Linked DNA regions of Homo sapiens: region 1 is linked to region 2. The links come from fine-mapping of genetic effects on gene expression. A gene starts in region 2. The other region holds a variant in brackets. All regions are shown on one strand. Distances are from middle to middle.

Region 1 (15,659 bases), 49 kb before region 2:
TGGAGTCTGTGTTAGGGAGTCCATTTTTAGCCATGCACATATGGATGAAGCAAAAGAATATTTTTCTGCAAAATAAATGTAGCTGTAGGGAAAGAAAAACAAGATGAGAATCCGTGATGCTTCATAACATGGTGGGGGGAAAGGCAGAAAGATTGGGGAAGTCTAGTAGATGATATTCTAGTTCTAGTCCCTATGTAGGCTCTAGATAGGGGCTCAGGGTCACTCATCTCCAAGAAACCTGTTCATTTTACAGTACCAGCCTTGCGTCCTGAGGTACTTCATTTCCTAACCTTGAATCTCAAATCCATACCCTGTTCTAGCCCTGAAATATTCTTCACTTGAACTCACTTCTGTTTCTTACAACCACACCTTTCCCAAGGCAGGGAAACTGCTTTTTTAATTAACATTTTGAAATGATTATTTTACACTTTAAATAACTAGCGTGCAAGGATGCTGACACATAGTGTTGTAATATCTTACCTTTATTGCTACTTTTCAAGCAACTTGTAAAGCTTACGAGGTAACCTTAAAACAAACCCCCAAAATTGAATGCTAGCAATCAAAAGAAATCGTAAATGTGATGACAAAAACATAAATGAGACTGAGTAGACAAAGATACAACTAACTTTGCTGGGGGAAGTTGATGTAGGCACAGAAGAGGAGATCCCAGACATTGAATCATCTTTGTTCCTTCCCTTGCCCCACAAACTCTGCCTATTTCCAGCATTTATTTCTTGGAGGATGGAAGAGAGGACAGAAAGTGACAGAAAACTAACAGGAGAGTTAGTGGCCTGGCATGTTTCCAAAGGGTAGAAAAACAAAGAGAAGGACATTGGCAATTCCTGCTACTAGCAACAGGGTTCTACTGAGAAGTCACAAATGTTTAGTTTTCCTTCCCTGGACATGTGATTAGGCTAACATTTTTCTACCTACTTGAATTCAGATAAACCCTAAGTGACTTGCTATGGCATAAACGTCATCTGAAAAGATCAGGATTACCCCACTGTGTTGCTTTCCAAGTTCCCTATCCCTTATCACTGCAATGAAATGTTCCTTGTCCTGGAGGCATCAGCCTGGGTCCCTCAGAACTCTTGATGGAGAGATATCATGGGTATTCTAATCCCACCCACCAAAAGGAATAAAAAGCTCAGTTCATCATATGAACTGTAGAATATCTAGATCATGAAAAAGTGAAAAGTATACATCAGTTTTTATTAGATGACAACTTGTTACCATATAAGTTCCCCCTTTTTTCTTCATAAAGATTAAAAGTTTTCTTTCTCGTAGAGATATATTATAATAAAATTGAGAGAAAACCGGACAGTTTTGCATCCTACTTTTTTGAACTTAATATTGTGAGCCTAGTGGCAACTTCTACCTACAGTCTTCTCCACCTTCTCAAAGAAATATAACCTCTACACTCCCTAATTCCACAGCACTTGAAATATGTCATGTGCTGTAAAGTATTATAATGGCTTAAGTATTTCTACTAGATTCTGAACTTCTAAATAAGAAACAAGATTTCATACACATCTTTGGTTAGCCCATAATATCTAGCACTGGCCCTAAATGTAATAGGTCTAAATACGTTTAGTGAATTCATGAATGATGGAACTCTAGCCAATTCAACAATATTTCTTTTAAATTTTTAAATCATATTTTAACAGTTTTATTTAGGTATAATTGACATATAACAAACTGCATATATTTAAAGTATATAATTTGATGTTTTTACATACATATGTGTGTGCGTATGCGTGTATGTATGTGTGAAACCATCAAGACACTCAAGATAATGACCATATCCTTCCCCCAATAAATCACCCCTCCCATCTTCTCCCACCCTGAACAATCTTTCTTTTTTTTTTTCTTTTCTTTTTTTTTTTTTTTTTGAGATGGAGTCTCCCTCTGTCACCCAGGCTGGAGTGCGATGGCATGATCTTGGCTCACTGCAACCTCCGCCTCCCAGGTTCAAGCGATTCTCCTGCCTCAGCCTCCTGAGTACCTGGAATTATAGGCACGTACCACCATGCCTGGCTAATTTTTGTATTTTTACTAGAGACGGGGTTTCACCCTGTTGGTTAGGCTGGTCTTGAACATCTGACCTCATGATCCACCTGCCTTGGCCTACCAAAGTGCTAGGATTACAGGCGTGAGCCACTGCGCCCAGCCCCTGAACAATCTTTCTTAATGCCATGTTTCTGGGTAAAGAAACAGGGATAGAGAGGTGGACATTAACATATATATCCAACAGCCACAATTTCAAAGGCAACTCTGAGTATTTGATGTGTTGACAAATAAAAGTAAAAAGGTTTTTTCCCAAGTTTTTCCAGCTTCTTAATGATCACTGGAAAGCTATGCACATATTCACACCCAGAGGCAAATAGTAAAAATATTCTGAGGAACTGAAAAGGCTTCCAGGGAAAAGGTTTTTCTACTGTCTCATCAAGGAGATGACACTCTGTACTTGACCCACAGAAATCTAGTGAACTCTGAGAAAGAAGGCTTTGTTTTGTCCCCAAGAGTGGCTCCTTGTCACCAGGGAGGAGGTGCTATAACTAAATGTCCTCAAGACGGTGCTTTTTATACCTGCTCCTCCTAAGAAGTTAGCACAGAGGCCAGGGTAATAGGCTGTAAGCACTTAGCCCTGTCATCAGAAGGGATTTCTCATTTGTTTGTGATGGGAACTTCTATTACCTCTATCTTGAGTTTCTTTCTGTACCACACTTTTGCCTGTAGTGAGTCCTCTATGTTTTAGCTCTATGGAAAACACACGTGGCTTTAGAACAGTTCTGTCTCCAAATACTGACATACATTTATGAATTAAAACCTCTTTCTATCATACAGAACAATAAAGCTTTTAGAGGAAAATACAGAACATCCTCATGACCTTGGAGTAAGTTAAAATTTCTTACAAAGGGTCATATAAAGTGCTAACCATAAGAGGAAAAATAAAGTAGACTATATTAAAATGAAGACACCATGAAGAGAAGGAAAATTCAACCCAGAGTGTGAAGAAGTATTCGTAGTACATACAGATGACAATTGAGTAGTATCCAGAATATAAACAATTCTTACAAATCACAGAGTAATAGAAGACAACACAATTGAAAAATGGGCGAGAGACTTTAACAGACACTTCATAATGGTCAGGAGACGGGCAGGAAACACACACAAAGGGGCTTAACTTCACTAGTATCAGGGAACCGCAAATTTAAGCCACAATAGGATCCCACCACCTATACAAAAGAATGGGTAAAATGGAAAACACAAAGAATATCTAGTGTTGGTGAAAACATGGAATCGGTGAGTTCTAATACACCACTGGAAGAAATGTGAATTGTTTCAATCTGTTTGGAAAACCGCCTGACAGCAACAACTAAAGCTACACATATGCATAGCCTATGGCCCAGCAACCCCACTCTTAAAAGTATATACATATATCCGAAAGAAATGGACACCCATATTCACCAAAAGACATATGCTAGAATATCCAAAGAAGCACTCTTCGAAGTAGCACAAATCTGGAAACTGCACATGTGACCATCATCAGTAAAATGATCAAATAAATTGTGGTATATTCATAGAATGAAATGCTACCAGGGTAGCATGGAAGTTTGCAACCATATGCAACAATATGGATCAGTCCCTATATTAGTCCATTTCGTGTTGCTGTAAAGGAACTCCTGAGCCTGGGTAATTTATAAGGACAAGCAGTTTGTTTGGTTCATGGTTCTACAGGCTGTACAAGCATGGCACCAGCATCTGCTTGGATCCTGGTGAGGCCTCAGGAAGCTGTTACTCATGGTGGAAGGTGACTGAGGAGCACGTGTGTCACAAGGTCAGAGAGGGAGCAAGAGAGAGGGGAGGAGATGCCAGGCTCCTTTAAACAACCAGCTCTCATGTGAACTGATAGAGCAAGAAGTCACCCATTACCATAAGGAGGATGCCAAGCCATTCCTGAGGGATCCACCACCATAACCCGAACACATCCCAATAGTCCCCACCTCCAACATTGGGGGTCACATTTTAACATGAGATTTGGAGGGGACAAACATCCAAATGATATACATTCCACAAATATCATATTAAAAGGGAAGTCCACAAAAGAATACACACTGTTGGATTCCGTTTATGGAAAGTACAAAAACATGAGCCCATAGATAGATCAAAGAAAATAAAAAATAAAATAAAATAAAATAAAATAAAATAAAATAAAATAAAATAAAATAAAATAAAATAAAATAAAATAAAGAAGGTACAAAAACAGATAAAACAAATGTGGGCCATTAGAAGTGGGATAGAGGCTGCCTGGGGTAGCAGCTGGCAGGGAGCACTGGGGGTTGGGAGGTGGTCCTGGGGTGCTGATAATGTTCTGTTTCTTGATCTGGGCTCGGGTTACATGAGGGCGCTCAGGTTATGAAAAATTCATTCATTTATTTGTACATTTATGATATATGCACTTTGGTCCATGTATATTTCAATTAAAACCCCCTTTTGCTTTGAGGCAGTTGCCTTGTTATGTACTTTAAACCATGTTAGAACTTAAAACTGAGCAGAGTATCCTCTCTCATCTGTGTTCTGCCATTCCCATGAGGGATGAATGCCATCCAGTCAGTGCCTTCTGGGCAGCTAGAAATTGGAGATCACTGGGTTCAAAGATCAGGTGAAATGTCAAAGCAGTATCCCCATTCAATAAGATTATGTCATAGTATATACAGAAAGTGCTGAGAGAGTTTTGCCTCAGAAGAAATCTAACTGAAGAAATAAGTAACTTAAATGAGATAATGTCTAATGCCAGATTATCCAGTAACCAGCCAAGAATAGAGTCCATTTGCTCCCAGTAAAGAAGTTGTTTCAGTTAGGGCACCAGGTAAGTGACTCATCAGTATGATGAGAGGAAGGAAATTCATTTTACCTACCTTATATTTGTGATCTTATTACACATTGAATAGCTTTACTCAATAACTCAAAGTGAAATTAAGGATGAATTGTGCCAGCCACAGCTTCCAAGTAGCACAACTATAATAATGTATGAGGATTACTGATCTCAATAAATAGATGGGAACATAAATTGTGTAAAGGTCCAGGAAGGAGGCTACATGATCCTCAGCTTGTAGCAGCAGGTGGTTGCTATTGCTGCTTACCTTCATTCTCTAATTATCTTGCTGTTTCATGGTTACTGTTACTCGTTAAGACAATTTTCAGTTATTTCAGTACCTTATGAAAAATGTATGGACAAACTAGTGTCCTCATTTATTACTCTCATGTGGATCATCTGTGATATTTAGTCTACTGTTTATGTGGCTCTTTATATGTGCAGTTATTGGAAAAATCTGCTGAGCTTTTTAGTCTGCAGAGAATAAAATCTTTCTGAAAAATGTTATAATATTTAAAAGCCTTAGAACCTAAGACAACAATGACTTGGGTCTAATTGGTATCTGGATGGTTAATCTCCCGAAACACACACAACTAATAGATGAATCAGTGTTCCCTCCCAAAAAACCAAACCCAAAACAAAAACAACACAAAGAAGACAAACATGTGTATCAGTAAAGTTTTCTTTATAAAAATCAAGAAAAGGATCAAGACAGAATGACAAGGAAAAGAAGAAAGAAACCAGGGGAAGTGCAAGGAGAAGAAACGGGCAATTAATATATGTATTGAGTGATTATCATGCGGTTCATATATGTTAGTGCAAAGAAAGCCAGAAATGGAGAATAAGGAAAGCAGACAAAGAGCTAAGAGCTATGACTTAATATGTATAAAGAACAGAGAGAAGAAAAGGTAAAAAATATATAACTTTGTATAAATTTGTTTATATCTACTCCAATTAGCACTCAAACTAGATTTATATAATCAAATATCAATTGCTCATTTAACTTTTTACACATTTATCACTAATGGAAATTACATTTTGACTGCTTCTAACTGCAGCTGAAACTTGCTTGAAGCTTTGTGTTAAGAAACTAAAACCCAAAATAATGCCAAAGGTTAACAATTCTTGCTCTAGAAAGTCTAGAGTTGTATTGTGTTGCAGTTTATTATGTTCATTTCCACAGTATTAGGAAATTATTAAAAAGGGAAATTTTCAGTGAGCCCTCTGTGTGTGTAAACTGACACATCTTCAAACGAATGCATGAGAAGTCGGGAGCTGCGCCTTGGAACTCAGCCTGGAAGCGTAGGCAAGATTTGAAAATGTTCTTTTCAGCCAGGCGCGGGGGCTCACGCCTGTAATTCCAGCACTTTGGGAGGCCGAGGCGAGTGGATCACCTGAGGTCGAGAGTTCGAGACCAGCCTGACCAACATGGAGAAACCCCGTCTCTACTAAAAATACAAACATTAGCCGGGCATGGTGGTGCATGCCTATAATCCTAGGTACTCAGGAGGCTGAGGCAGGAGAATTGCTTGAACCCGAAAGGCGGAGGTTGCAGTGAGCTGAGATCGTGCCACTGCACTCCAGCCGGGGCAACAGGAGCGAAACTCCGTCTCAAATAAAAAAAAAGAAAATGTTCGTTTCTTGTCGTTTAAATTGCACTTGCAAGAAGAATCAATTCAAGGGTTCCCCAAAGGTGGACAAGCCACTCTGCTTTTAAGGTCCTCTTAGCCTGCTTTTCAGGGAAAGTAGCAAACTTGAGAATTCCAACATAGCTAAGACGCATAAATTAAGTCACCTCCGGGCACTTGATGTGTTTGAAGAGCTGAGCGCTACCGAAGGGAAGAAAGGAAAGGGAGAAAGAGAAAAGACACTTAATCCATGCAGCTAGAGGCATGCAGGCATGAAGGTATTGCCTAGTCAATACCTTCTAGTCAATATCAGTATCTTCTTAAAAAATAAAAAAGTTTTATTTTTTTCAAAACATTAGTTTGAAAGAGCAGAGGGTCCATCAGAGGTAGCAGTGAAAAGTAATTTTGGAGATCTAAGATTCTGGGGAATACCTGATCCGTTCCCAAGCCTGAGACCATGCACACACATATGACCACTATTTGCAGTCGCAGACGTTTTAGAGATTAAAATACTTTTAAAAGCTTCTGTTTATCCTCTGTTCCTTTGGGGAACTGCACCTCTCTCAGACTCCAAGTGTCACTGGGGCCTGCCAGGCACATTGACTGTGGCAGTGGGGTGGGCACATGATCCAGTCTCGGACAGTTATTCTCCCTCGCCCAGGAAATTGACAAGAGGTTGGAGCAGAACTGCTGATGGCTCAGCCCTGAAGAAAAGATCCTCATGCCTCATCCCAAGTTGTAACTTTCCCGAGGTTTAGTTTGCAGCAGTTCCTTTTATTGTGCCAGCTACTTAGGCACTCCCAACAAATCCTCCTTCTTGCTTTAGTTGATTTTGACATGTATAGCCAAAGGACTAAAGTATTACAAACTTGAATGCTTCTTCACAA[T/C]CACAGCATGTACCCCAGTGGGGGCCACAGTGAAAGAGATGTACCATGGCCACTAGGGTTGCCAACAGGACTCATCACAAATGGATGAAGGGACTCTGACTGGAGCAAAAGAATCTGCTGAGATAGCAATGTGCTATTGGAATGCCAGCCTAGAAGATCAAAGTTGTCACAGTGCTGGCACCTTTGCCCCCTTTCTGTCTTTCTGTTTGTACTGCCATCCCCTAGTATCTCAGCTAGTCTAACTGGTCTGTCTGTTCCTCTTGCTGTCTCTGCACCCCCCACATCTATCCCCTCTAATATATTCATAAAGATGGGAGTTGGCAACACAACCTTCTCTGTTAATGTCCACTTGGCTGGAGACACAATACATTCTTACAGTAAAAGGTAACTGCGTAAACCACATAGCACATGTGCCATTCCTGGTTTGCTGGCTACAATTCATGATTTTCCTTCTATGAATTCAAGGAAAGTTGGTTAGAATCTCTATTTCATGGCAGTGCAGGGTTAATTTTTCTATACAACCTCATTGGATAATATTCACTCCTTCTTGAAAGCCCTTCAGGGGACCTCTGCTGCCTACGGGATAGCACCTGCACTCCTCAGTCTGTCACGAAAACCCTCCCTGACCTGGTCCAGTCCACTTTGCAGTCTTATATCGTGCAACGACAGTACCTCAGACTCTCAGCTGTATCCACACAAATCTACTCACTTTTTCCCGAGAGGGACTTGCTCAGGACCTTATTCAGGTCTTTGCTGAAGCCAGCAGTCTATTCTCTCTCACCGGCAATGCTCTCCTATCACTTCCTCCTGCCAAAATCTACTGGTCTGCAAAGTCTAGCACAGTTTCTTCCTCCTGCATAAAGAATTTATGGGTAACTACAGATAAAAATCATCCATTCCAGGACTTATTTTTAGTTTTTACTTTTTGGAGATGGAGTCTTGCTCTGTCTCCTAGGCTGGAGTGTAGTGGCATGATCTCTGCTCACTGCAACCTCTGCCTCCCAGATTCAAGCAATTCTCCTGCCTCAGCCTCCTGAGTAGCTGGGACCACAAGACCACAGGTGCATGCCGTCACACCTGGCTTTTTTTTTTCTTTTTTTGTATTTTAGTAGAGATGGGTTTTCACCATGTTGCCCAGGCTGGTCTCAAACTCCTGAGCTCAGGTGATCTGCCTAACCCGGCCTCTCAAAATGCTGGGATTGCAAGCATGAGCCACTGTGCCCAGTCAATGATGCTGTTTAAATGAAGTTCTCCTGAGCTTCATGACCATCTAAGTTTGTTGTCCTTCAGATACCACAGAGACAATATGCCCAAGTCTAGAACCTACACCTCCTATCACATTTCCTCTGATGGTGAACCACTGCACTGTCTACCCAGGCCTCCCAAAGAGCTAGAATTACAGGTGTGAGCCACTGTGCCCGGCCCCAGGACTTCTATACACTGCAAATTTATTATCTCTATCACTCTTAGGACATTTTTCCGGATACTGTCATGAACTCTCAACTCTGTATATGTTCCCAAATAGATTATAAGTTTTTGGACGGCAGAGATGGAAATGTGATGTTTTTATATATCTCTATCTATGTCTCATCTGTACATCATAGAGCCTAGGATAGTGCAGAACACAGAGCATCACTCAATAATTAATTGTAGATCCAATGAATCAAGGAGCTGTTTCTTAGCTCCCTCTGCAAAACAACAATACTTTACTCTGTACAAGCTGGTCCTTGACTCTTTGGTTATAAATCCTAAAGAGCCAGCTGTGAGTCAATGGGCACTTGGAGGAAAGCAAGACTGAGCTTTTCCAGTTTTATTTTGTGTTTTCTGATTTGCTGCCCCAGAGGTCTGTTGTTGTTGTTGTTTTTGAGACAGAGTCTTGCTCTTGTTGCCCAGCCTGGAGTGCAGTGGCGCAATCTCGGCTTGCTGCAACCTCCACCTCCTGGGTTCAAGCAATTCTCCTAACCCAGCCTCCCGAGTAGTTGGGATTACAGGCGCCCACCACCACGCCTGGCTAAGTTGTGCATTTTTAGTAGAGACGGGGTCACCATGTTGGCCAGGCTGGTCTTGAACTCCGGACCTCAGGTGATCCACCTGCCTCGGCCTCCCAAAGTGCTGGAATTACAGGCATGAGCCAATGCGCCCAGCCAGGTCTGTATTATAGGTACAATCTAGGCATACGATGGTCACTTTTTCATAACTAAAAAGAAATACAAATATTGGAAATGGCTCTCCTATTATAAATGCCACAGAAGACACAGAATTAAAAAAGAGAGAGCATAAAATTCTGCTTTAAATTTCAAAGACACACTTAAACTACAATTCTAAAGTGAAAATGCAAGTTGGTCCGAACAGTTAAAAGACAACTTACATTATAAAAAAGACCTAATTACAAAATGCATAGCTTTTTCATTTTACTTTTTAATACATGCAACTTCACACTTAACATCTATATATCATTTCCAAGTACAAATGATATTGTAAACTTTTGTGTGATAAAAATCTCATTTAAAAATATGTTTAAGTCCTACAAAAGTATTTTGCTTTCTAAAAATGCTAAATATGTTCTTATAATTTTTACATACCCTGTACAACTACTTTCAAATACTGTTTTCCACCTCATGCAAAAATAAATTCCAACTTACTTTATATCACATTGTCATAAATTTAAAATTATAGGGATTGGGAAGAATTAGGTTCACTAAATATGCACATTGCTAAAAACACCTCATGGTATGTGAGTTGCAGAAGCGCTGAAAGCTACTAACCTGAGTCATCCTGTGATTACAGGAAAATTACCTCTTGTCTTTGTGAATCACGGCAGTCTCCACCTCCAGAGAGTGACAGTTGCTTCTCATAACTTTCTCAATGTGTAACGTAAATGAAAACTTGTAGGAGTGAAATGAAATAGTGCGGTCCTTCTCATGATAAACCTCTTGTGTGAGTCTCTGAAGGAAGCACAGGCCCTATCAGGAAGAAAACAAATACTAAATGTCATTTCACATGGTATGTATATGGAGCCAGCTACAGCCCAGGCTGACTTCCTGACCTATGCATAAATTACCCAGCCAAGTAGGGATTAGAAAGAATTGTTAATATGTGGAGTGTGCCAGAATTATAAGAGCAGTTCAAATCAATAGGCCAATAAATCAATTCCTAAGCTTTCTATAAAACATACAATACTTTCTCCTAAAATTAAATTGAATGATTTCATCTTGTTCCTGGGAAAATTGCTAACATTGAGAGTCATCTCTGATTCCAGGGGCTTAATTAAATAAATACTACCTAAGACAATATTACTAAATTGTACTAAATCATTCCAGTACAATTGGACTGCTCAATATTTTCCATATTACTAGCTACTTTCTTGTCACTTTGATAAGTACTCGTAGTTATTCATCATTGTTCACATTTTTCTTCTTCATAAGAGTTTGTTATGAAACCCATCAAAAGGCTTTTAGTTATTAAAAAAATAATGCACCAAAAACCACTTTGTAATATAGAGGTCTTGTGATATACAATGAGATCTCGAGAGATGCCTGATATGATAGGAAAAGCCCATCCTATAACACCTTGGACCCTAATTGCTTGTCTGCAAGTGGGGTGAATGGACCATAATCTAAGTCCCAGCCTGCAACCATTTTTCCTAGTTTCCTTATCACTTGTGTGTTCACCACACTGCCACAAACTGTACTTCTTATTACACCCAGTGATTCTCACGATGGCAGGGTGCGTGTGGGTTTTCTACTCAGAGATGCGTGTGCCTTCCCCCAACATTCCCCTACACCAGCCCAACCCTAGTCCTGGCCCCTATTTAAGAATCAATGATCTGGATGTGCTTTGGAAAACTTCTCTCTAGTCTTCAGAACTTGCCTATAGATTTTAACCCCAGCTACATCTCACTCATATGTAGGCACATGATCTGTGCCATTGAGAGCCACAGAAGCTAACTTTTTAGAAGTGCGTTTAAGAAGCATTTTGAAAGAGCTACCAAAGCATCTTATCTTTCCTCATGCAATTTTAGAGCCTACCTTAATTATAAGAGAGATGATGTTTGCTAACTGAGTCCCTATGACAGGGTAAAGCTAAAGATTCTCTGTTCGGACTTACCCTGCCAGGCTCTGACCTGGGCAGTCGACTGTCATCAGACAATGTGGTTGTCTATGCGCCTTTCCTTCAGGCATTTGTGCCTAAATGTGTTAGACCCCTCAGATAAGCCACCAAAGGCAAAGTCTTCAACGCCCCCATCAGTAAGAGTACCAATGAGAAGAGGAATTGTAGCTAGTGTAGAAGTAGGAGGCATATGTGTGCTACCTGGGCAGGAGGCTTGTCTATACGCCCAAATCAGGCACCCAAAACACCTACAAATATGACTGATTTTGCTTCTTTTTCCTAAATTAGGATCCAAATTTGCCTCTGTCTAAAGTGCATGAATCATATCACCTTCTCCAAGAAGTTACTGGGCAAAGATAGAATGGGGTCGTATATATCTAAAAGGAGTTGAATTCCAATTGAGACTTTTTATTAAATCAGTCATATTTAGTATTGAAAGAAACACATTTCTTCTTCTCTTCTCTTTGACTAAACAGGAGGCCATCTTCTAGGGCAAGGTCTGTACCTTAAACCTTCTGAAATAAGCCATGCGTGTATTTTCCTGGGAAGAGGGTCAGCACCACAAACCATGGCTCAGGGGCAAAGCCAGATTTTTGAAAAAAAAAAAATTTCTGTATTAAATTAAAAATACACATTCATCTTTTCAACAAATATTAACTGAATCTCTGGCAGATGTAAGGCACTAGGGATACAGATAAAAGAGCTCTCACCCCATTCAGGACCCCAGAATTTAATATCTGAAGCATACAAATAAACAGAAAATTAAAGTGCAGTAGAACTTTACTTCTGGGATGGATACATCCTGAGCTAATGTGATTCCCCAAACTCATGCCTTGCCTTATTTAATACCAAGAATCAAGATTATTTGATATAATCATCTAAAAAATAATAGAATTGATATGGTTTGGCTGTGTCCCCACCCAAATCTCATCTTGAATTGTAGTTCCCATCATCCCCATGTATTGTGGGAGGGAACTGGTGGGAGGTAATTGAATCATAGGGGTGGTTACCCTCATGCTGTTCTCATGATAGTGAGTGAGTTCTCAAGAGATCTGATGGTTTTATAAGGGAATTTTTTCCCTTTTGCTTGGCACTTCTCCTTGCTGCCGCCATGTGAAGAAGGATATGTTTGCTTCCCCTTCCACTCATGATTGTAAGTTTCCTGAGGCCTCCCCAGCCATGCTGAACTGTGAGTCAATTAAACCTCTTTCCTTTATAAATTACACAGTCTCGGGTATGTCTTTATTAGTAGCCTGAGAATGGACTAATACTGTAATCATATATTCATACAATCATTATAAAATAATCATTTTGTGTTATTGCAAATTATTAATTATCATGGATCTAAACAGTGTTCAAAATCACAATGTCAATACCCCTTATCTGGTGTGAAGAATGTTATGATGTGGGTGTGCGCCGGTGCTACAGGAGCACATAGGCGACTGATCCAGCCTGGAGTGGGAAGGGGGAGTGAAGGCTCCCTCAAGGGGCTGACACCTAAACGGAAGTTCAAAAGATGAGTGGGGTCAGCCAGGTGAAAAGGAGAAGTGGGTGATTCCAGGCATATGAAACAGCATATGCAAAAAGAAAGACACAAAGCCAATAAATGAATAACAACAGCAATAACAGCAACACACGCACAGAAATATATACAGATGGTCCCAGACTTATGAAGGTTTGACTTTATGATGGTGTCAAAGTGATATACATTCAGTAATAATTGTGCTTTGAATTTTGAATTGTGATCTTTTTTCCAGGCTAATGACATGCGGTGGGATCCTCTCTCACAATGCTGGGAAGCCACAGAGAGCCACATCTCCCAGTTGGCACACCATCATGAATGTAGACAACTGAGATTTGACAGTGTTCCTTTTTGCCAGGTGATTTTGCCCAGCTGTCGGCTAATGTAAATGTTCTGAGCACGTTTAAGGTAGGCTAGGGAGGTAAGCTATGATGTTCTGTAGGTTAGTTGTATTAAATGCATTTTTTTTTTTGAGACAGGGTATTCATTCTGTTGCCCAGGCTGGAGTGCAGTGGCACCATCGTAGCTCACTGCAGCCTTGACCTCCCAGGTGCAAATGATCCTCCTGCTTCAGCCCCTCCCAAGTATCTGGGACTATAGGCGTGTACCACCATATCCTGCTAATTTTGTGATTTTTGTAGAAATGGGGTCTCCCTACGTTCCCCAGGCTGGTCTCAAACTCCTGGGCTCAAACAGTCCTCCTGCCTTGGCCTCCTGAAATGCTGGGATTACAGAAGTCAGCCACTGCACCAGGCCTAAGTGCATTTTTGACTTATAATATTTTCAACTTATAATGGGTTTATTGGGATGTAACCCCATCATAAGTGGAGAAGTGTCTGTATTAATTATTTGCTATGGGCCAGGCCGTGTTGTAAGCATTTAACACATTGACTCTTCCCAATAACTATATAATATAGGAACTACTAGTTCTCCCATTTTACAGATAAGAAGGAGGACCTAAGTGACTTTCCCAAAGTTACATAGCTAGTAAGTGGCAGAGCCAGGATTTGAACCCAGATAATTTGACCCTAGCGTTCGCACTCTTAACTATACAGATGGCGAGGAGAAAGGGAGGCAAGGAAGCAAATGGCGAAATAAGAGGCTGGAAGAGAGGGCAGGAGTCAGATCATATAGGACCTAGTCCAGCTTCTGAACATCATGGGGAACCACTGAATTATTTCAACAAGAAGAATGACAAAAGTTGATCTCGGTTTTAGAAATTGCCTCTGGCAGTAGTGTAGACTGGCACTTCATGGATGGGTCCACAATGAAGGCAGAGAAAGAACTTGGTTAAATATGTTAGCAAAGAATGATATTAATAATGCTTAGAAAGGATTGAAATGAAGGGATATTAAGGAGAAAGAACCAAATTAATAGGACCTGGTGACTCATGCAGAGTTAAGGCAGGGAACATGCTGAAGATGACGCTCTGATAATAAGCCTGATACAGTACAATGTACCACTACTATCCTAAAATAAGGAAGAAGAAAGAATACAAGGTAAAGCAAAGGAAACTTTAGTAATGGCCATATATAAACTCTAATAAACCCTTCCTTCGTAATGCATGTGAATACATCCAAATTAGTTTACTTAAGATGTATGCATTTGCGGGAAATAGGATATAAGAAGGTCTAGATACTGGTAACTGATTTTGAAATGTCATAATGGTCAGCAATGCCTTGTATTTTATATTACAGTATGAGCTGTGTGAACATATGTTCCATAATTGACGGCAGCACTTTCTAGACAGGGACAATATGTCTTATGATCTCTGCATCTTTTTTGGTATTTTTACAATGTTCAATGAATGTCTACTGTACAAACACGTGGAGAACAGAAAAGAAGGATGGCCCCAGGGAAGACAGTACAGTGGTTCACCATCAGAGGAAATGCGACAGGAGGTGTAGGTTTTAGACTTGGGCATATTGTCTCTGTGGTAACTGAAGGACAACAAACTCAGATGGTCATGAATCTCAGGAGAACTTCATTTAAACATCATCATTGACTGGGCACAGTGGCTCATGCCTGTAATCCCAGCACTTTGGGAGGCCGGGATAGGCAGATCACCTGAGGTCAGGAGTTTAAGACCAGCTTGTCCAGCATGGTGAAACCCCGTCTCTACTAAAATTACAAAAATTAGCCAGGTGCGGTAACACCTGCCTGTAATCCCAGCTGCTCAGGAGGCTGAGGCAGGAGAATCCATTTGAACCTGGGAGGCGGAGGTTGCAGTGAGCCAAGATCACGCCACAGCACTCAAGCCTGGGTGACAGAGTGAGACTCCATCTCAAAAAAATTAAATTAAAAAAAAATCATTAATCTAGTACATAGCCCATTAGGGACATTAGAGTTTATTAAATCAAAAGAGAATACACACAGTAAGAAAATAAATGAAACTAGAGGAGGAAGGATCACAAACTCTTAAGTCCCATAGATGTCAGCATTAGAGGAGAGGCTAGCCATGTATGATAGAGCTCTACTATAACTAAATTTAATTTGAGAAATGTTGACTAAGCACCTACTAGGCTACAGATGCTTTGGTAGCTGTAAGACAAACAAAGATGGGTGGTCCGTACTGTCTCAAAGCTACAGACTAATTCAGGAGTAACACAGAATAAGAGCTGAATAAGCACAGC
Region 2 (15,659 bases):
GGGGCACGCGCTAGACGACCTGTCGCGCCCCCTCCTCCCTGCGGGCGGGCGCCGAGGCAGCGGATCTAGGGCGCAACAGAAGCTTCTCTCCGCTCCCCTATGCAGACCATTGTCAGTGCTCCGGTCGCCGGCGCTTTCCGCACGGTGTGGCGACTGGCAGCAGCTCTCCCGTTGCGAGTAGTCACAGCGCTGTCCCGCAGCCAGGGGCAAAAGCTGCTTTTGCATCAGAGCCGAGGGCTGCACCAGGTGTAACTTCCACCCCTTGACCTATTTTAGAGTGTGAGGATGAAAGGAAGAGGAAAAAATAGACGGAGGGCGCGCGGGGGTGCGGGCGGCAGGGTGCGCGCGTGGCCGTGGGGGAGCGCGCGCGCGGGCCGGGGCTCGTGTCGGGGCTTCCAAAGAGAAGTTGCAGCGAGGCGCCCCCCGGCGTCCGGCGCCTGGGCCCGGTCGGGGGTGCTTCGCTAGCCCTTCTTCCCGCCGCGGCCGCAGGCCAGCTTGGCCCGCCCTACTCCGGCGCCCCGCGCGGGAAGCGCAGCTACCGGGGATCGGGGGCTTTGGGCTGGCCCCGCGACAGCCGTCGGGAGACCGCCCGCGGCCCCCGCCCCCGTCACCGTCCCCGCCTCCCCGGGCCGCCTTCACCTTTCGGGAGGCGGCGCTCGGGCTCAGCTGTCCGGGAACCCAGGCCTGCGGCGCCTCCGGGCAGCGAAGGCGGGCTGGCGCGCGGCGGAGCCGGGGACTGTCGCCTCCCCGCCCCGTTCCCTGCAATCGCCCCGCCCGAACGTGCCCGGGAAGTGAGGCTGGGCCGCGCCCGCCCCGCCGGGGACGGGGTGACCTTCCGGCCTCCAGCCGTGCCCTTGTTGCCTGCCTCTCTCGGCGTGGCCCTTCCTGCGTAGGAGAAGACGCCCCGGCGGGAGCACCTGGTCGGCCCGCAGCGCATCAGCGCAGTACCTTGGGTGACGACGACGCTTGGCTTTAGCGCGGCTCTTCTCACTTAATTTTTTACAGCCCCGGACTTCAGCGGAAATGCCCCCTCGGGGTCGGTTCATTGGGATAACTGGAGATGGGGGGGTTAAGTAGGGTGCCACGGCTTAGACGCTCCAAATCATTCCACTACACAACATGCCTAATCTGCTGAGTTTTGCAAAACGAGCCCCATCAAAAAAGCATCCATCAGAAGGCGGGGTGGAACTTAGAAGTTTTTGCCCAAAACTGGACACAAACCTTTCCTCCCCCCATTGCTTCTATGACAATAGCGTTAACTACTTTCTTCCAGGTCCCTAACGTAATAGTATCTTCAACCGCCTATTATCAAACAACTCCGTTATCATCAGGGATCTATGCACTTTAAAAATGCACGTTCTTAGTGACGAAAAATGAGCACATTTAGTAACCGCTCTGCCGCCCTTTGTATAGAGGTTCGTGCTCCTGATCCCCAGCGTAGGGGGCAGAGTTCATGTCGAGCTGTTGTTTCCAGTTCAGGTTATTTATGGGGACCCAACTACAGGTCTCACATAGACGCTGGTCTATAACAGGTTATTTGTGAGGACACAACTACAGGTCTCACATAGACGCTGGTCTATTTCAGGTGCTACTAAGAGGGCTAATGGACGTCAGCATATAGTTTCTGATTCTGGAATCGTTTTCTAGTGCCACAGTATATTGGGTGGGGTGGAGTGGGGGAAACCTTTGTTTGGGCTTCTCTTTATCCTCATGCCCTGGATAATCAGACTGACATTTTCTTTTTCTGTAAAGGCCTCACATTCAAAAAGAAAGAAAGAAAGAAAGAAAGAAAAAACCACGAGTCTGGTTTTACGTATTCTTGAGCTGAATGCCAGCTACAGAAATGCAGCAGCTCATCCTTGCTTCCATTCACTGGAGCTACAACTACAATATGTCTTCGGACACAGAAGACGTATTGGATACTGTGATGTTCCTTGTCCTCTTCTAACAGTGCATTAGGAGACAAAGCATACCTAAAGTATAGGATAGTGCCTGGCAAATAGTAGGACCTGATAAATACTCGTCCAGTGATTGAAAGACTGTGATAAACAGGAAAGTAACCTACCTTAACTTTTGTAGGAAAACATAAGGGAAATCAGTTATAGGTGACATTGTCAGGGAAGGCATCCTGGAAGTGGTGTCCAATGTCTGATTTAGATATAAAAAATTGGCTAAGGACTAGGTGAGGTGGCTCATGCCTGTTATTCCAGCAGTTTGGGAGGCTGAGGTGGGAGGATCGCTTGAGGCCAGGAGTTTGAGACCAGCTTGGGCAACATAGTGAAACCTCATTTCTGAAAGAAATACAAAACATTAGCTGGGCGTGGTGGTGCATGCCTATGATCCCAGCCATTCAGGAGGTTGAGGCAGGAGGGTCACTTGAGCCCAGAAGCTTGAAGTTGCAGTGAGCTGTGCTTGCACCACTGCATTCCAGCCTGGGTGACAGAGAACCTATCTCAAAATAAGTAAATAAATAAATAGAATTAACTAGGGAGTGGAAGTGAGAAAGTATATTTGATATGCTTTCAAGACATAATAGAGGCAGAGATTCTTAACCTTTTGTAGGTAATAGGCCCCTATGAAAATGTTGATAGAAGCTTTGAAACCCCCTTATATAATAAACAAATGTAAAATATTTGCATTTGTTTTCTGAAAGTTCACTGACGGCTTGAAGCAGACATGTAGAATCCCTAGAGACTTGTGAACTATGACATGAGTTACCAACTTCTTTCTTGTTTGGAGGCAGGTAGAAAAATAAAGAGATTTTTCTAGTTGAGGCCATCATAAGCGGCATTTCAGTGACCACCAGTAGAATTTGGGTAATGGTTGTGGGAAAGGAAAGAAAAATGTACTGTAAAGAAAATTTGTACACCAGAGAAACATAGCTAGACTTTTAAGCCATTTATGTTATTTTTGTACCAGAGAATTTCACTTTCACATCTCAGCAAAAAGGAGGAAAGGATAAAAAATGACTGTCAAAATATTGACAGTTGCTGATGCTGGGTGTACACATGGGGGTTTATTGCATTATTTTCTCATTATTTGTGAGGTTTAACGTTTTTCAGTTTTTTAAAATTTCAGTGGATTTTTACTCTCGGTAGTCATAACCAATCCTATGGCATTTCCTAACTTGAGTTCTTAGAATGGAGATTTTTGTATATAAAAAAAGAAAGAAAGAAAAGAAAAAGAAAACAATACAAACAGGCCAGTGATGCCACACATAAGATTGTTATTAATAAGTAGAGTCTATGTAGAAACAATACGTTTTCTCTGAGGAAGAATTATAAAGTGTGTTGGCCATAGTCTCAACAGAAATTAGACAACTATGAAACGTTGAACACGTGTTTTTCTGGTTTTTTGTTTGTTTGTTTTTGAAACGGAGTCTTGCCCTGTCACCCAGGCTGGAGTGCAGTGGTGCGATCTCGGCTCACTGCAAGCTCCGCCTCCCAGGTTCACGCCATTCTCCTGCCTCAGCCTCCCAAGTAGCGGGGACTACAGGCGCCTGCCACCATGCCCGGCTAAGTTTTTGTATTTTTAGTAGAGATGAGGTTTCACCGTGTTAGCCAGAATGGTCTCGATCTCCTGACCTCGTGATCCACCCGCCTTGGCCTCCCAAAGTGCTGGGATTACAGGCATGAGCCACCGTGCCTGGCCTTCTGTTTTTTTCTAATGTTACACTTAACTTCACTGTGTGTTGCTTAGTTAACTAAGTTTCTTTATCATTACATTTTATTATTATATCATGCATATAATTTATATACTTATATATTATATATTCATATGCAATGTAAATATATATGCAATATGAATATATATTCACATGTATTATATATTTTAATATATTTATATAATATAAATTATTGTATTATGTGTTATATACATACATATATTTATATATAACAGAATATATTATATATATTATATATACAGATGTTCCTTGAATTACGATGGTTCATTTACAATTTTTCAACTTTATGATGATTTGAAAGCAATGCATATTCACAAGAAGTTATACTTCTAGTACTCATACAACCATTGTCTTTCATTTTTACTACAGGATTCAATAAATTACATGAGATATTCAACACTTTATTATAAAATAGGCTTTGTCTTAGATGGTTTTGCCCAATTGCAGGTTAATGTAAGTGTTCTGAGCACATTTTAAGGCTAAGCTAAACCAAGCTATCATGTTCAGTAGGTTAGGTGTGTTAAATGCATTTTACAACACTTTCCATTTACAATGGGTTTATTAGGATGTAACCCCCATCGTAAGTCAAGGAGCAACAGTACTATATAATATTATTATGACCTTTCTCAGTTAACTCAGTTTCTTTATTAGTCAACTCCCTGGGTCTGGCACACACCTCTTAAGGCTACAGATGGCCGGCCATGATTCCTTGAATGCCTGCCTTACTCACTGCCTGTTTCTGAGCAAGGCAGCCCCAATGCTTCCTTATACATAGGCTGCACACTTTCCAAATGTGACCAATTCAATCAACCAAAGGAGCTATCTAGCATGTCCTGTGGACTACAAGGCTGTTGCCTAGCAAAGCATGAAATTTCTCCAGCTTATGTAATAAATACTGCACACCTGAAGTCTCTTAAGTTATGGCATTTAAGTAAGGAATTCACGTAAGTTCTTTTCCTAAAGCTTTTGACCATTATTTTACTTATCCTCATTGGCTATCACAGTCCTTAGCACTTAGAACTCAATGCACATATTTGCATTAATATGCATGTGTTGCCATAAGCCTCAAAATGTGCTGCATGATGCTTATGTCACCATTTCATTCACTTCAGCCTTGACCATCTATTTTATTCAAGGACGTGGTCTAAGGTACTGGCTCTTAGCCATTGAGGGTGCTTACCTATTATTAGCTTAATGGAGACTTACCAAAAAAATTACTGTATTTTTACCCACTTTTCTCCACCTTTCCAAGTCATCCCATATTTTTTTAGTGGTTTTAGCTAGTTTAGCATGATAACATCTTGATGCATAAGGAAGTGGAATCATCACCAGGCTGAATGGTAGACCCGGGTGAGCTTAACTTCAGATTGCAGGAAGAAATTGTGAGGTGTGTTCCAGTCTCTCAGACTGATCTTTAGGAGACTGGAGACAAAATATTCCAACAACAGGGATAGGCAAAGCTCAAGCTTTATGGCCTCATTGGTTTTAAAGGATTCCCCACAGTGACCCAGTCAGAATGGACTGAGAATCAAAGAGCTCACAGCTGTTTATTAGTCAGCACAATTTAGAGACAGACATGCTAACCAAGAGCTGTCTTTGTCATTTTGGGATGTTCACGGGCTGGAGTCCCAGTAGCCATCTCCTAAATCCTAAACCCTTCAGTTCTTCAGCCATTTTGCTGCTAGAAAGTGTGTAGCTGCTGCCTTTATCCAAGGAACTGATATCTTCCACACCTCTGAAACCTGGAAGACCTTCTCAAGGTACATAGGGAACTTCCTGGCATTGGGAATAGGATGGTTTCTTCTCTTATAGGGTTTTATGCACCAAAAAGAGAAATGCCACTTCTTCTCTTTCTTCCTGAACTTTTAAAAAAGTAGTCCTGCCAAGTCTCATCATTTCTCAAGCACCTGTCCTTGGTCCTCTGCTTTTCTCTCTATATAATCTCCCTAGACAACCTCATCCACCTTTCTAACTGCAAGGAAAAACGCTGTGTAGATTTCTCAAAATTCTGTTTCTCTGAATTGGTCTTCTCATAAACCTGCAGATCCCATGCTCTCATCTTGCTTGACATCTCCACCAGGGTGACATCAACACATTCGAACCTGAGGTCCTTCGCCCTCCGTGCACCTAAAGCAGCTGCCCTTTTCTTTCTTCTACAATCTCCGTCCTCCCAGTCACCTGGCACATTCTTAGACTCTGCTTCTTCTTGCCCTTCATAGCCCATGGGTGACCACCGTCTGACAATTTTGTATCTGTACTGCTTTTATTTATCAACTCTGCTCCCTTCTTATTGTTTCTATTCTAGTTCTTTATGTCCCATTACTTCCCACCTAGATGATTACACTAATTGCTTAATCTGCTCTTCTGATTGCCAAGGCCGTCTCTTCCATAAAAGATAATTCCAGACAAAAAGCTATTGTCTAGATTAATCTTTCTGTCCTAAGAATGTATCAGTTCTTGATCTAGATGCTTCTTACATTTATCACTAACCTTTGTATAAAGTATTATTTTATTCAACAAAGATTCATTGCTGAGCAGTCTGTGAGAAAAGCAATGGGGAGCAAAACAGATAAGATATCTACCCTCATGGCACTTATAGTCTCGTGGGATGACAAACATTAATCAACTAATCACAAATATCACAACTAAAATGTGCAACCCCAAATTGCAACACATACCTTGAAGGAAGACTGCAGAGTTGCTAGGAGAGCTCACAGGTTTCATCACTTTCCCAGAGGGAGGACTGTGTAGGATTCAGCCTTAGATCCTGAAAGTCTAGTCCAGAGCCCTGCACATGGAAGTACTGAATAAGTTGAAGGAACATATGCATCAAGAAAAAAAATTCAAAACAAACTAACAAAAAACACAAAAAATGAAAAAAGAATAAAACAAAGAAAAAAAGCCAAAAGAACATGTGCATCTACTTCTGACATATACATGTGTGATCTTTTCTGTACTACACAATACTGAATAAAACACACACCGGATGTTCCCTCAAATACTGACCTCAACACATAGCCACGTTAGCTGTTTGCTTTTGTTTCCATGACCACATGTCCATGGGGCATCTAATCTCTAAATACACCCTATTTTCTTTGCCAGCATGACAACATGTAGAAACTTGTTATCCTGGTAGCATTACCAAGAATAATTGTTGCTTTATGGTGAAAGTTTTTAGGCATGCTTTAATACTTTGCTGTTATCACCAACACAAACCCATCATCCCTCTTCCCTACAGTTTGGAATGTTTGCTGAAGATGTCAAACAACATTGTTTCTTTTGCCCCTTGGGAAACTGGTTCATCCTCCAGCTGTCCTTTGTGTCATTCGCCAGCTTCCTCTCCATTTCCAAAGCTGTTTGAGTATTACCTCTTCATCCTCATGCTCTTACCTTTTGTCTGTCACTCTTTCATCATTCTGCTATTATGATCACGTAATTTTTGGAGTCAGCTTTTCGCTGGAACACTGAGTGACACATATCACTTGGCTTATTTTATCTCTTTTTTTTTCTTTTTACAATACTATTAGATAATTTGTTTCAAGAAGCACTTTTGTGCATAGAATCTCAGGTCTGATTTGGGTGTGTGTGTTGTTTGTTTCCAGCTTTGAATGAACAAGGACTGGAAAAGATGAGCTTATTTGTCATGGTAGGAAAAGAAAAACTGCAAAAAAATACAATAAATTTCACCAACAGAGAATGTGTTATATAAATAAGGGAGCAACTACATGTTAAAAAATGCAGAGCCATGATCCTGAAGACAATTTAATGACCTGGAGATACAATGCAGTGTTAAATAAAAAGCAGTTTCACCCCAATATTTTAACATTATATAGTATATTTACATATATGTAGGGGAAAATGCTGGACAACCATACAAAAATGTGACTAGTGATTTTCTCTAGGTGATGGAATTTTATTTTCATATATATATATATATATATATATATACTTTTTTTTTTGAGAGAGGCAGACTTGCTCTGTCCCTCAGGCTGGAGTGCAGTGGTGCAATCTCAGCTCACTGTAATCTCTGACTCCCAGGTTCGAGTGATTCTCCTTCCTCAGCCTCCCAAGTAGCTGGAATTACAGGCGCGTGCCACCAGGCCTGGTTAATTTTTTTGTATTTTTAGTAGAGACAGGGTTTCACCATGTTGGTCAGGCTGGTTTCAAACTCCTGACCTCAGGTGATCCACCCACTTTGGCCCCCCAAAGCGCTGGGATTACAGGCATGAGCCACCACACCTGGCCTCTTCTATATATTTTTTAAAGGGAAGGGGATTCTATGCAGTTTGCGAGCAAAGCATATCCCTATTTATAGCCACAACTCTTGTCTCATAAATTTTATTGCTATTTCATCACTGCTCTTACCAATGAAATATGTGAGGAGCAGTACCAACATAGTACTCTTTCGTTCTCTTTATTATTATTTTAAATTCTCAAGTGCAAAAGTACGAGAAAGTCCAATTGTTTCAAGTGTAGAAGTCACAATGACCTCATCATTCTCACCGTAAAAAGCTATTTTATGTCTATGTCAAAAATAAATTACCTATTGTATTTACATCCTGTTTTTTAGGTGAAGGCAAATGTTGGCTCCCTGGCTAAGTGTCTTGATGAGATCTACCTATTAGTAATGGTAATCTTGGGTTTGTATGACAGTCAGCTCTAGGAAAAATGGAGAAATAGGGTCACTCTGTGTGTGTGTGTGTGTGTGTGTGTGTGCATTATGTGCACTTGTGCACTCACCTGTGCTCGTGTCATCCCTAGAGATTTGATTCTGGGGAAAACAAAGGGTGAATTTTGAGATAGTTGGTTTTTATTTTTCTCTGGAGATATATTTTGAACTTTTTGGGGGATACAAGTTTTGAGATATTTTCAAATAAATTAATACTTAAGATTAGATCCTAATGTATGTTACTAGAAGTTAACGCATTGTAAAATAGTTTCAGAAAGCTGTGCCATAAGAAAATTTTGTTCGAAAACTATTTGCAATTGTCAAAGCACAGCTCTTATCTTCTGAGAGCAAGCAAGACAATACTAATCTTCTTCAGCCTTCCTCTCAGAGTTCAAATAACCCGAGTTCTGTGACACTGATCTTAATCAAGACCTCTGGGCCTTAAATTACTTATCTAAAAAGAGAGAGCATTGAGTCAGATAATCACTGAGATCACCCACGATTCTTAAAAGAAAATGCATTTTTGCTTAGATCTGGAGTGAAAATCATTCCATTGTAAAAAGCTATTTTATGTCTATGTCAAAAATAAATTACCTATTGTATTTACATTCTGTTTGTTAGGTGAAGGCAAATGTTGGCTCCCTGGCTAAGTGTCTTGATTATATCTACCTATTCGTAATGGTAATCTTGGGTTTGTGTGAAAGTCAGCTCTAGGAAAAATGGAGAAATAGGGTCACTCTGTGTGTGTGTGTGTGTGTGTGCATTGTGTGTACTTGTGCACTCACCTGTGCTCATGTCATCCCTAGAGATTTGTAGAGTTGTAAAATAAAGAAGGAATTTGGTGCTTTCTTTATTGCATCCATTTATGATCTAAAGGTTCAGTAGGAAAATTTCCCATTTTCCAAGCTGCATTTCAAAAGGCTGGGTATGGAGTTAATAGTTGGTAGAAGCTTCTATTTAATTCATCCGAAAAATTTAGGAAGAACTTGTGAGATGGAAGAGGAAGGAGACTTATTCTGAGATGCTCCAGAGGGCAGACTTGGACCAGTGAATGCAAGTTACGGGGAAGAACATTTAGACTCAACTAGAGGAAGAGATTTCTAAAGTTTGAACTGCATAAAAGCAGAGCTTTTGCAAGAGGCACAACTCTTTGTCTCTGGATCGGCAGAGGAAGAGGGCAGCTCGTTTACTGGTGATGTTTGTAGAGGGTACCCATACATCAGACAGGAAGTCGTGTCAGACACCTCAATGTCCCCTCCTGGGCTGGGGTTCTTTGATGTGATATGACAATGTACTTTGGCAAATGGCAGAATACACAGTCTTTTCAGGTGTTTGGACAAAGAATGAGCCTAGTATTTTCACAACACAGGCTTTGCAGCTCTTATTTCTCTTTCCTGCTCCGATGGTGTCACCTTCTGTACTGGTGATGAAACTGGTTATGTTTGGAATAGGAGTCAAGTCAAGGTATAAATAACGCGAGAAAGAGATGGCAAAGATTGGTTTCATCCAATTTATTTGAAGGATCCAGCTGAGACCAGAACAGGGAATCCGCCTTGGAGACCATGAAAAAATGTTTTCATGGATAATCCAGGAAAATGGCGTCCTAGTTTCGGCATAAGACTGCACATACCTGTTGAACTGGAATTTGTACTTTCTTCTTCCCATTTAATGTGAAAGAAGAAAAGGAAACAGAATAAGCAAATGAGAAAGAAAAGAAACTTTATCCGAGGAATGCAAGCCTCCTGTAAATGATCAGGCCCAGAGAGGCAAGGGAATGAGGCAGCAGTCAGGCCCCACTTCTCCCCTGGAGCTAAGCTAATCATCTCTTGAATCTGCTTGCTCTAGACTGACTGTCGCCACAAGTAGCTGTAAATTAACCTAACAATGCCATGCACTGGACACCATAACTAATATCCTATAGTTCAAAAATATATAGCTAATTACTAATCATTGTCATTTCTGTTAACCAATGGGAATTCCTGACAACTTGTCTGCCTTGTTGCCTTTAAAAACCTGCTTGTAAGAAAGGTTGAATGAAGCTCATATCCAAAGTTACTTGGGTCTGAGTCTTTCAGGCAGCTGTCCTCATCTTGGCTCAAGTAAACGCTTTAAAATTATATTTTGTGCCTTAGCTTCTTCCATGAGGTTGCCACAAATAACAATTATCAGTAGAAAGATGACTAGAAGCATTTTAAAAATCCAACTGAGCAGTCAAAACAGGCACTAAAGGTCAGAGAAGTTATTTTTTTCTTGTAGTTTGTCTAAAAGAAAAATAAATTACCATCAGGAAACAAAAACAACAAAACGGGAGAAAATGCCATTCGCAGGAGAAGATTGCAGGTGAAATAGCACAGAGGTTGAAGTCACTGCTCAGGGCCAGACGGGTGGGAAGTTTCCTTGGCTCGTCCTTTATTTATTTATTTATTTATTTATTTATTTATTTATTTATTTATTTTTAAATTATACTTTTAAGTTCTAGGGTACATGTGCGCAACGTGCAGGTTTGTTACATATGTATCCATGTGCCATCTTGCTGTGCTGCACCCATTAACTCGTCATTTACATTAGGTATATCTCCTAATGCTATCCCTCCCCACTCCCCCAACCCCACGACAGGCCCCAGTGTGTGATGTTCCCCTTCCTGTGTCCACGTGTTCTCATTGTTCAATTCCCACCTATGAGTGAGAACATGCAGTGTTTGGTTTTCTGTCCTTGCGATAGTTTGCTCAGAATGATGGTTTCCAGCTTCATCCATGTCCCTAGAAAGGACATGAACTCATCGTTTTTTTATGGCTGCATAGTATTCCATGGTGTATATATGCCACATTTTCTTAATCCAGTCTATCATTGTTGGACATTTCGGTTGGTTCCAAGTGTTTGCTATTGTGAATAGTGCCGCGATAAATATACGTGTTCATGTGTCTTTAAAGCGACATGATTTATAATCCTTTTGGTATATACCCAGTAATGGGATGGCTGGGTCACATGGTATTTCTAGTTCTAGATCTTTGAGGAATCACCACACTGTCTTCCACAATGGTTGAACTAGTTTACAGTCCCACCAACAGTGTAAAAGTGTTCCTATTTCTCCACATCCTCTCCAGCATCTATTGTTTCCTGACGTTTTAATGATAGCCATTCTAACTGGTGTGAGATGGTATCTCACTGTGGTTTTGATTTGCATTTCTCCGATGGCCCATCACTTTCTTAATTGCAGGAGAGAATTCATCCATGATTTTGGACAGTGGCTCTTTTCTTTCCCCACAGCAAAGCTTTTCTACATTTACTATTCAGGACGTATACAGGCAACTGTAAGGTAACATAGGTCACTTCTCTCAATTCTATCTGATTACAAATCGGATCAGCATAACCTGGAGCACACAATTTAAGAAAAATGTCAAGCACAATTTTCCTATATTCAAACTTAATACATGTTAAAAGAAAATTTTGTTTACACAAAGTTTAACTTGTAATTTTGTAATCAAGATTCAAGAAATGTTCATGCACACTGTTTAGCCAAAAAAAAAAAAAAAAAAAAAAGGCAGGCAGGCACAGAGGCTCACACCTGTAATCCCAGCACTTCGGGAGGCCGAGGTGGGGCAGATCACTTGAGCCCAGGAGTTCAAGACCAGCCTGGGCAACATAGTGAAACTCTGCCTCTACCAAAACACACACACACACACACACACACACACACACACGTACACACAAAATTAGGCTGGTGTGGTCGTGTGTCTGTAGTTCCAGCTGCTCAGGAGGCTGAGGCAGGAGGATTGCTTGAGCCTAGGAGGTCGAAGCTGCAGTGAGCCATGATCATACCACTGCACTTCAGCCTGGGAAACAGAGGGAGACCCTGTCTCAAAAAAAGAAGACGAAAATCCTGCCATTTGTGACAACATGGATGAACCTGGAGGGTATTGTGTTCAGTGAAATAAGCCAGGTACAGAAAGACAAAAAACATGTGATCTCACTCATATGTGGAATCTAAAAAAGGAATTTAATCTAAATTCCTTTTGTTGCAATTTGGTGGTGGGGATATAGGTCAAAGAACACAAAATGTCAGATAGGAAGAATGCCTTCAAGAGATCTATGGTAAATATGATGACCATAGTTAATAACATCTTGTATTGTTGCAAAATGCTAAGTTAGTGCATGTTAAGTGCTCTCACCACAAAAATGATAGCTACGTGAGATAATGCATATGTTAATTAGCTAGATTTAGTCATTCTACTCTATATATACTACAGACAATTTTATCTGTCAATTAAAAAATGTTTAAAGAAATGTTCATGCAAAAGAGAAAGCTATTTAAAATGGAAACAAAAATGAACACTTTTTCTCAAGATTGCAATTTATACCTAAATGTACAAAGCCAAATAAATGTATGCACTCTGTATACCTTAGCTTCAGCTTTAAAGAAACTCTGCAATGGTTTGGGGTTCTAGAGTTTGATATCTCCAATTGTCATGTTTAAATGTCAGTAAAATTTAACAATAGAAATTATTTGGAATTATTCCAATATGTATTCATTCAGGATCCAGGAAATATTAGACAAAAAAGGGGAAAAAAATGAGGATTTGAAAAGGTATGTTATGTTTTTACTATTGACTAAGAAAAAAACTAGAAACAAACAAACAAAACACCTATTTGCTTCTCAGCAGATGAATTTTTAACGTTGCTGGCCAATTATTCTAAGGCAAGAGCAAAGTCAAGAGTTTCCTCAGGGTGGCCTTGTCTTTAGGAGAAAATAACAGATGGAATCACATCATGTTAATAAAGCAGTTATGTATGCATACAAAGTTTAAGGGATGTAAGGGATTTTCGAAATAATACGATGCAAATAAAAGAAACAAATGTTTACCCCTAAACTTCTGAAGATTCAGAATTGTATGACCCGGAATATAAAAACATCCATAATTGTACCACCTACAAACATCATTGTTAATATTTTGGTGCATTTCTTTTCTGTCTGTCTGTGTCAGTCAAAGTTGGGATTACATTGTATTCATTTTTACTTTAAATTGCATTTTTTGTGCAACATATCGTGTTGTTAAATAATCTACAAAACATTGATTTTTAACACTCTCATAATCTTTCATTTAAAAAGTATTTATAATGTGCCCTGTGGTGGACGAAATACAATGGAGCTTTAACTCATGTAATCCTCAGGAGATCCTGAGGAAGCATTAGTGTTATTATTGTTATGATCCCTATTGTTTCACAAATGGGGGAAACCGAGGTTAAGGGAGGTTAAGGAACTTGCCCCAAGCCAACAAAAAGCTGGGCTGTGACTTGAAATGATTTGCATCTAACTCTAATGCCAATATTCTTAATGATTATGGTAAACTTTCTCTATGTGAGAAATGTAAATGATTCAAATGAAATGTCAAAATCTTTTTTTTTTAACTTGTCAAGAGATCAAGTAACTTTTTTCAGGTGTACTGACTAAATCGCCATGACAGCTATGTGAATTGTATCTTTCCTTAGAGAGTAAATAATACTGTCTGTTTATCAAGGTCTTCAGTTTTCATTTGCACTTGTCTGATTTTTTAAAGGCCAATATATTTTGTCTATGCTTGGAGAATACGATAAGCCTACCTTAAAACTATGTAATGAAATCCAAATAACAATATATTTTGCTTCTTTTTCAGAATAGCATTATATGAATCATAAATTAAAATCATATAAAGTGTTGCTTTGTATATTGTCATTTACCATATGCCATATTATATTGTAATTCTCTCACTCTGTGTGTCCTCTCCCTTGTCTAAATTGTAAGCACCTTCAGTAATTATATCATTTATTGCATTTTCAGAGTCGAGTGCATCTTGTAAAATAGTTATTCAATATTTGCTTCCATCCAGCTACTTGGGTGGCTGAGGTGGGAAGATCTCTTGAAGTCAGGAGTTTGAGGCTATACTGTGCTATGATTGTGCCTGTCAATCGCCATTGCACTCCAGCCTGGGCAACATATCAAGATCCTGTCTCTTAAAAAAAAAAGAAAATTAAAAAAAAGTTGTTTGCAACGTACATAATGTTGTTCATGTTTCATGTATCAGTAACTAAATACAAATTACTTAAACACTAAACAATAGTCCTCTTAAATAAATTGGTCTTTATAGATAATATTGTCTCTGTGGCAGAGATAACGTTAAGTGATCAACAAACTAGGCTCAGTTACCTCTTGGGCACGCAGGAGACTACATAGCCCAGTCTCCTTTGTGTTTAAGTGGGACCACATCCATGTGACTTAGTTCTGGCCAATAGAATGTGGACAGAAATGATGCATGGCAAGTTCTAGTGCTCACTCTGTACAGCCTCCTCTATGTCATGATCTCTCTTTCTTGCTCTTTCATTCTCTGTCTCTCTTTGTCTGCTGAATACAGGTAGAATTAGTAAGGAAGAGAGACCCAAGAGATTCATGAATCTCCATGTAGAAGATCACAGTCTGAATTCTAAATGTGACTGTGATGTGAGCTATTGAGATTTAGGGGTTGTTAGTGATAGCCTCTAGCATCCTATTGTGTTTATCATGTATTGAGTTTCAGTTCTGCCTCAGGTACATACCAACACACCCTCTACTATCACATTCTCTTCCTTTCCCTCATACTGTTCTCTCAACCTGACATTTCCTCTTTCCATATTTTTATCTATTAAAACTGTACTTATGACAGAGTTCAAATGCCCCTTACATAAAGCTTTGTTTCATATCACAGGCAAAATAATCTTGCTCCACTGTAACCCATCACAGAATTTTCTTCCCTTATTCCACATCCATAGTCGAGTGCTGGTCACCATCATATCCCTAATGCCCAATGGTTGGCATTTACAATATTTATCCAACAAATGAATGAATTGGTGCATTTCATTTCTCTCACAGGTTTGATACATTCCCTGTGTGTAGGATCATGTCTCATTCATCTTTATACTTCCCAGTGACAAGCACAGAACTTGGAACATAGTAGATACTCAAAAAATGTTTGTGGAATTGCTAAAGTATTATTAATGATGATTGAGAGAGGTGCATTTTTTAAATATAAATGTTCACAGTTTTATAATTCTTCAAGTATTTAATAACTTTCACAGCGGGAAAATTTGTCATTAAATTTAATCTAAATTCCTTTTGTTGCAATTTCAAGTTTTTAATGATTTTTGTTACCTTCAGTCACAGCACTTCTGAGTAGGAAGAGGCTCAGTTCTCAGAAGTTATTTCTGTCTTGACTGATATATTTACAGAAGGGGTGGTAATGATTCAACTGCTCTAAATCAATACTGCTGAATTATTTCAGGAAAGACAGGGTTTTT

Alleles and levels. Alleles are on the strand shown, and positions count from the first base shown. SD is a standard deviation of normalised expression in the study named.
In carriers of allele T in region 1, the expression in thyroid of the gene that starts at base 6,657 in region 2 tends to be lower than with C alone (small effect, 0.30 SD a copy in GTEx).

Evidence for each region. PIP is the estimated chance that this variant, and not a neighbour inherited with it, causes the effect.
Region 1: its variant is fine-mapped to the expression of TRMT9B in thyroid (GTEx, PIP 0.99).

Annotation. Positions count from the first base shown.
Region 1 is chr8:12,985,532-13,001,190 of GRCh38, reverse strand. TRMT9B (tRNA methyltransferase 9B (putative)) reads right to left here. Exons shown (of 5, transcript NM_020844.3): 2 at 10,160-10,357. LOC124901889 (a long non-coding RNA gene) reads left to right here. Exons shown (of 6, transcript XR_007060829.1): 5 at 13,262-13,434. Among named protein-coding and RNA genes, the nearest start is that of TRMT9B, 48 kb to the right of the region's middle. The variant T/C (reference allele first, on the strand shown) is at 7,395.
Region 2 is chr8:12,936,671-12,952,329 of GRCh38, reverse strand. TRMT9B (tRNA methyltransferase 9B (putative)) reads right to left here and starts at 6,657. Exons shown (of 5, transcript NM_020844.3): 1 at 6,364-6,657. RefSeq lists a silencer at 642-791 and enhancers at 963-1,463, 9,901-10,440.